Homo sapiens: one gene and its partner. The protein of the gene in region 1 purifies or fractionates together with the protein of each later gene. This does not show direct contact. Each region holds a gene or a part of one and is shown on either strand. Other genes may lie near its edges.

Region 1 (4,327 bases):
TGTTTTGTTTTGTTTTGTTTTTGTGTGTGTGAGATGGAGTCTTGCTCTGTTGCCAGGCTAAAGTGCAGTGGTGCGATCTTGGCTCACTGCAACCTCCGCCTCCCGGATTCAAGCGATCCTCCTGCCTCAGCCTCTTGAGTATCTGGGAGTACAGGCCTGCACCACAACACCCAGCTAATATTTGTATTTTTAGTAGAGACATGGTTTTGCCATGTTGACCAGGATGGTCTCAATCTCTTGACCACATTATCTGCCCGTCTTGGTCTCCCAAAGTGCTGGGATTACAGGTGACAGTCACTGCCCGGCATTGTTTTTTTGTTTTGTTTTGTTTTGTTTTTTGAGATGGAGTGTCAGTCTGTTGCCCAGGATGGAGGGCAGTGGTGCGAACTTGGCTCACTGCAGCCTCCATCTCCCGGGTTCAAGTGATTCTCCTGCCTCAGCCTCCTGTGTAGCTGGGATTACAGGTGCCTTCTACCATGCCCGGCTAATTTTTATATTTTTAGGAGAGACAGTTTTTCACCACATTGGCCAGGCTGGTCTCGAACTCTTGACCGCAAATAATCTGCCCGCCTTGGCCTCCTGAAGTGTTGGGATTACAAGCGTGAACTGCCATGCCTGGCCCTGTTTTTCCTTTTTATTTTTATAGTTTTTATATTGTCCATAAAATCGAGATTTCCGTAGTGACTTATGGGATCTTAAAATCTTTCAAGGAAAACTACAATAAAACGCAACTATAGGGAAAAAATATTCAAAAATACCTTAACATCCTTTTGTCAGAACATAATCTTTGATCAAATAAATACTTATTTTCTCATTTCTCATTTTCTGTGAAGGTGATAACTCATTACTCCATAATGTTTTGTTGAAATGTGTGTTTCATTTTAGGGACGCTTGACTTTCCGGGATGTGGCTATAGAATTCTCATTGGCAGAGTGGAAATGCCTGAACCCTTCACAGAGGGCTTTGTACAGGGAAGTGATGTTGGAGAACTACAGGAACCTGGAGGCTGTGGGTGAGGAAAATGTCCCTGCAGACATGAGGAGTCTGCTCTTGTCTATCTTGGCTCATCCTGGCTTTGTATCCTCTTTTGTGATTTTGCCCCATACATGGGTTTTGTTTTTTGTTTTTTGTTTTTGAGATGGTGTTTCGCTCCTATTGCCGAGGCTGGAGTGCAATGGTATGATCTTGGCTCACCATAACCTCCGCCCCTCAGGATCAAGTGATTCTCCTGCCTCAGCCTCCTGAGTAGCTGTTATTATAGGCATGCGAGACCACACCCAGCTAATTTTGTATTTTTAGTAGAGATGGGGTTTCTCCATGTTGGTCAGGCTCGTCTCTAACTCCCGACCTCAGGTGATCCACCCACCTCGGCCTCCCAAAGTGCTGGGATTACAGGCGTGAGCCACCATGCCCAGCTCATTCTGGTTTTTGAGGAGCATCACAGAAGCGTCTCTCACTGGCACTGTGACAATGTTCATCCCATAAACTAATGATCATCTTCTCTAAGCAGCAGTCAGTGGTGTTGCAATTCCTCCCAGCGAGGACATCATTCGGGCTCACAGCCTCATATGTATGAGGCTCTTGACTGAACTCTTGTTCATGTCACATTTTTCACACCAATATGTGTCACTGTTCATTTTTAACAAGAAAACCTATGTTCAGTTTGTTGTAGGATCAACCCTGTAAGAGATATGGTTTTCATCAATCTTATTGAGGAAGCTTTTGAGGTTGAATGAGGTTTCCATTGTTTAGTTCTACTGTCATTTCCTTAAGACACAGTGGCTTTCAACTTGTTCATTTCTATGTTGTTGTTTTTTTGTTTGTTTGTTTTGAGTCAGAGTCTCACTCTGTTGCCCAGGCTTGAGTGCAGTGGCATGATCTTGGCTCACTGCAACCTCCTCCTTTTGGGTTCAAGCGACTCTCCTGCCTCAGCCTCTTGAGTGGCTGGGATTACAGGCATGTGTCACCACACCCGACTAATTTTTGGTAGTTCTATTACAGATGGCAGTTTTGCCATGTTGGCCAGGCTGATTTTGATAGCCTGGCCTGACGTGATTCAGTTGCCTTGGATTCCCAAAGTGCTGGGATTACAGGCATGAGCCACAGCCCCTGGCCCCTTCCGAGTTTGTTTTTAAGGCTGAATAATATTCCACTGTATGTGTGTACCACATTTTGTTCGTATATTTATCTGTCAATGGACATCTGGGTTGGTTTCTTCTCTTTACTATAATAAATAATGTCAGCTGGGTGAAGTCGCACATGCCAGTAATCCCAGCACTTTGGAAGTGCGTGGGTGAATCACCTGAGGTCAGGAATTCGAGACCAGCCTAGACAATGTGGCAAAACCATATGTCTATTAAAGGTACAGTTTCTTTCTTTTTTTTTTTTTCAGACGGAGTATTGCTCTGTCACCCATGCTGGAGTGCAGTGGTGCAATCTCAGCTTACTGCAACCTCTGCCTCCTGGGTTCAAGCAATCTGCTACCTCAGCCTCCTAAGTAGCTGGGGTCATAGATGTGCATCACCATGCCCGGCCAATGTTTTTTTTTTTTTTTTTTTTTTTTTTTTTTTAGTAGAGACAGTGTTTCACCATGCATGCTGGCCAGGCTAGTCTTGAACTCCTGACAACATGATCCACCCACCCGTCTTCCTAATGAGCTGGGATTACAGAAGTAAGCCACTGCACTCAGCCTGGCTCTGTTTTCACAAACACATCTCTACCTACTCAGCCAGGGGATCCTTGTTCACCCCCATGGTCTCCTACATTGCTCTACTGTACTCTTCATGGAGTTTAGTTGTTTTTTTGTGTGTGTGTTTGTATGCATTTCTGGAATCTACACAGAGGATTTTGTTGAGTACATGCCTGAAACTAGAAGTCAGAGGCATTCAATTTAAGAGATGTAAAACTGCTTTCACCTCAGGCCACCGTACTGCTGCATTGTTGGATCTCTTTCATTCTTGTCCCTTGCCCATATTGTAATTTGCATATTTAACCTTGGGTCAATATGTTACCATTTGCTAAATTAGTTCCACTTTCCTCTAAGCTCAAGATTTGGTCTATCTTGGTGGAATTATATTCCCACAGAGGTGCATGCACAAAGTTCACTCCTACATGCCCATTACTTCCTGCCGTCCACCCTTGCCCTTCCTTTCCTGGCCTTGACTCACATGATACATTGATCTGGATGCAAATACCAGCCTATTGACTTTGTAAAAGTGAACACCCCAATTTCCCCGTGAGCCCCTCCCCTCCAACACTACTCTCCCTGAGTAAGTGAAGACCTTGTTCATCCACTGGACAAAATTATAGGAGGCCGCTTAAATCAGTGTGTGCAGGACATCATGACTCAGCACATGATCCATGAGGGATGGCTTCAGAACCACTGTCAGCAGCGCAGCTCAGCGCTTGTGTCCCAGCTCAGTCCTTGTATCCCCCTTGATGTACTTCTTTCTGTTCTCCTCATATTTTCTGTGTCTGGTCATTTCCTGTCCTGCCTGCGCTGACTATTGTGCCTAAGAACATGTCGTGGGATCCTTCATGCCCAGGATCAAGTCTTGTCCCTCACTTACCGTACGTGCAAACTGGGGTCATGTACATGAACACTGTGGGCCTGCTGTCATTATTTGAGAAATAATGTTAATTTGCCTCCAGGGTTGGTTTTTTTTTTTGTTTTTTGTTTAGTTTTGTTTTGTTTGAGAAAGAGTTTTGCTCCTGTTTCCCAGGCTGAAGTGCAATGGCACAATCTGAGTTCACCGCAACCTCCACCTCCCGGATTCAAATGGTTCTCCTGCCTCAGCCTCCCGAGAAGCTGGGATTACAGGCAAGTGCCACCACGCCTGGCAAGTTTTGTATTTTTAGTAGAGATGGGGGTTTCACCATGTTGGCCAGGCTGGTCTCGAACTCCTGACCTCAAGTGATCTACCTGCCTCAGCCTCCGAAAGTACTGGGATTACAGGCATGAGCCACTGTGCCTGGCCTTTTTTTTTTTTTTTTTAAATGGAGTTTCCCTCTTGTTGCCCAGGCTGGACTGCAGTGGTGCAGTCTCGGCTCACTGCAACCTCCACTTCTTGGGTTCAAGTGATTGTCCTGCCTCAGGACATAATCCCCCAAGTAGCTGGGATTATGCCTGGTGCGAGCCTGGCTAATTTCTGTATTTTTAGCAGAGATGGAGTTTCTACTAGTGATTCATCCACCTGCTTTTTAAAACAAATGAGTACTATTAGATGGCTTCATATAAGTTTTATAGTACACACTCAACTTCCTTTGTTTAATAATATTTGTCAGCCCTCAGTAATGTTGATGATGAGATGCCCCCTTTCCTGTCTCA
Region 2 (2,901 bases), on another chromosome or scaffold:
TCAGTTTGCAATAACTTTAGCTCATGGTGATGGTTAGATAGTAGAAAGTTCTGTTAAAAATGTAAACACCTAAGCCGGGCGCAGTGGCTCACACCTGTAATCCCAGCACTTTGGGAGGCTGAGGCGGGTGGATCACCTGAGGTTTAGAGTTCGAGACCAGCCTGACCAACGTGGAGAAACCCCATCTCTACTGCAAATACAAAATTAGCCAGGCGTGGTAGGCATGCCTGTAATCCCAGCTACTCGGGAGGCTGAGGCAGGAGAATTGCTTGAACCCGGGAGGTGGAGGTTGCGGTGAGCCGAGGTCGCGCCATTGCACTCCAGCCTGGGCAACAAGAGCGAAACTCCGTCTCAAAAAAAAAAAAAAAAAATTTAAACACTTGGCCAGGCGTGGTGGCTCATGCCTGTAATCCCAGCACTTTGGGAGGCCAAGACAGGAGGGTTGCTTGAGTTTGGAAGTTGAAGTCCAGCCTGGGCAACATAGTGAGACATCATCTCTACAAAAAATAAAATTAGCCAGGCATGGTGGTGCATGCCTGTAGTCCCAGCTACTTGGGAGGCTGAGGCTGGAGGATCACTTGAATGTGGGAGGTGTAGGTTATAGTGAGCCATTATTGTGCCACTGTACTCTAGCCTGGGTGCCAGAGTGAGACCCCGTCTCCAAAAATGTAAAAACTTACGAAGTTAAATAGCTCCCAGACATATCTTTTCATCTTTAAATGTTTCAGTGTGCAATTTTTAAAAGTACATTTTAAGCCAGGCGCGGTGGCTCACGCCTATAATCCCAGCACTTTGGGAGGCTGAGGCTGGCGGATTACTTGAGGTCAGGAGTTTGAGAGCAGCCTGGCCAACATACAGTGAAACCCTGTCTTTACTAAAAAACACAAAAATTAGCTGGACATGGTGGTGCACACCTGTAGTCCCAGCTACTTGGGAAGCAGAGGCAGGAGAATCGCTCGAACCTGGGAGGCAGAGGTTGCAGTGAGCCAACATTGCGCCACTGCACTCCAGCCTGGGTGACAGAGTGAAACTCTGTCTCTAAAAAAAAAAATAAACAAAAGTACATTTTAGGTTATACACCATTGTTAATGCAAACAATTATCTATAGACTTTTTTTTATAAATTAAAAAAATTATTTTATTTATTTGTTTGAGTGACACTGTCACCCAGGCTGGAGTGCAGTGGTGCAATCTCGGCTCACTGCCACCTCCATCTCCCGATTTCAAGTGATTCTCGTGCCTCAGCTTCCGAGTAGCTGAGATTGCAGGCACGCACCACCACACCCAACTAATTTTTGTATTTTTAGTAGAGACGAGGTTTCACTATGTTGGCCAGGCTGGTCTCAAAAACTCCTGACTCCTGAGGCGGATGGATCACTTGAGGTCGGGAGTTCTAGACCAACCTGGCCAACATGGTGAAACCCTGCCTCTACTAAAAATACAAAAAATTACCCGGGCGTGGTGGCACGCACTTGTAGTCCCAGCTACTTGGGAGGCTAAGGCAGGAGAGAATCGCTTGCACCTGGGAGGCAGAGATTGCAGTGAGCCAAGATCGTGCCGCTGCACTCCAGCCTGGGTGACAGAGCCAGACTCTGTCTCAAAAAAAAAAAAAAAAAAAGATTTTTTTCTTAACAGTGGGAAGTGAAAATTGGCTAAGAAGTCTACAGCATACAGTAAAAGAGATTATATTCTCTACATAATGCATGCTCCCTTGCCCTTATACATTGGAGAAATCATGGATTTTGGAACTTCCTGGCCACTAATGATGGTTAAGCTACTGGCTTGTTTAATGTTTTGTCAGTTTCTCACCAAGTTAGTAGATGATTGAATGCCCTACTAAAATTTTATTTGTTTTCTAGAATCCAAAATGATTGAGAAGCATGGAGGATACAAATTCAGTGCTCCAGTTGTGCCAAGTTCTTTCAATTTTGGAGGCCCAGCACCAGGGATGAATTGAGTTATCTCTTTCTTTCCTGCTGTGTGCTTGTAGTGAAGAGCTTGTGTTCCTCCTAGTAGTGGTTCCAGAACTGGTTCATGTTATCTATTCTAAACTAATAATCAATAGATGGACAAAAGAAACAACAACCCCAGGAGATGGGACCTGATCATGCAACCTGGCACTGGAAAAGAAATCAGCGGGATTTTGGGGGTGGGGGGGGATGGGAGGTACCTTAGAGGGAGTATTTTCTTTATTTTTTGAAGAAAGTAAGATCCTGACTCTGAAGCTTCAAAGTGACACTGTGGAAATCTGAAACGAGGGGATGTCATGAAGGCAGCTTTTCTTTTTCTGAGGAAAAAATAGGCATGGGCTACAGGACTATTTAAAATGTCTCATTTACAGTATAAAACTCAAAGGTAGATGTAATTTTTACACCTATGAGTATTTGTCCAATTTCTGTCTCTTCCTCACCATTGGGTATCTATTCTTTATATGTAAATAAGATAAGGTCATCTGATAGCCTTATTCAGTCTTCATCATTTTCATCATTGTTCCTATGTAGATTATTGGACATTTATTGTAGCACTACATAACTGATTATAAAAATCTGTAAATGAATTAGCACTTTCATATTGAAACAAGCCTGCTAGCCTATGTATAAAATAGCAAAATGTTTGCTGTTTATAAAAAGATGTAATGGGGTGGGGGGCAGGGGTAATTTCAAGTTATTAATTTAAAAATGAACTAGCAATTTTGTACCTGGTGACTTTGTGGTGCACTCACCTCTGATAGTGACTTGAATTCGGTATGTAAAAAGGGGTTAGTGGTATTTCATTGCTGCTAAAAATGACAACTCCCTCTGTGTCCTGTTTTTCTTAAAGCTGTCAGTGTACAAGTGGGTATTTGAATACCAGACCTTACTGTAAAAAATAAAAAAGGTGGTATCTAGAGCATGTAAATTGG

What was found. Proteins that work in one complex are often made in the same cells at the same time.
Region 2: the proteins of ZNF611 (region 1) and IPO7 purify together in Homo sapiens (co-immunoprecipitation; one large-scale study listed by IntAct). This does not show direct contact.

What each region holds. Positions count from the first base shown.
Region 1 is NC_000019.10:52,710,700-52,715,026, reverse strand, and holds part of ZNF611 (zinc finger protein 611), read left to right. Parts: intron 1-885; coding exon 886-1,012; intron 1,013-4,327. UniProt on the Homo sapiens protein: May be involved in transcriptional regulation.
Region 2 is NC_000011.10:9,443,239-9,446,139, forward strand, and holds part of IPO7 (importin-7), read left to right. Parts: intron 1-1,858; coding exon 1,859-1,956; 3' UTR 1,957-2,901. UniProt on the Homo sapiens protein: Functions in nuclear protein import, either by acting as autonomous nuclear transport receptor or as an adapter-like protein in association with the importin-beta subunit KPNB1.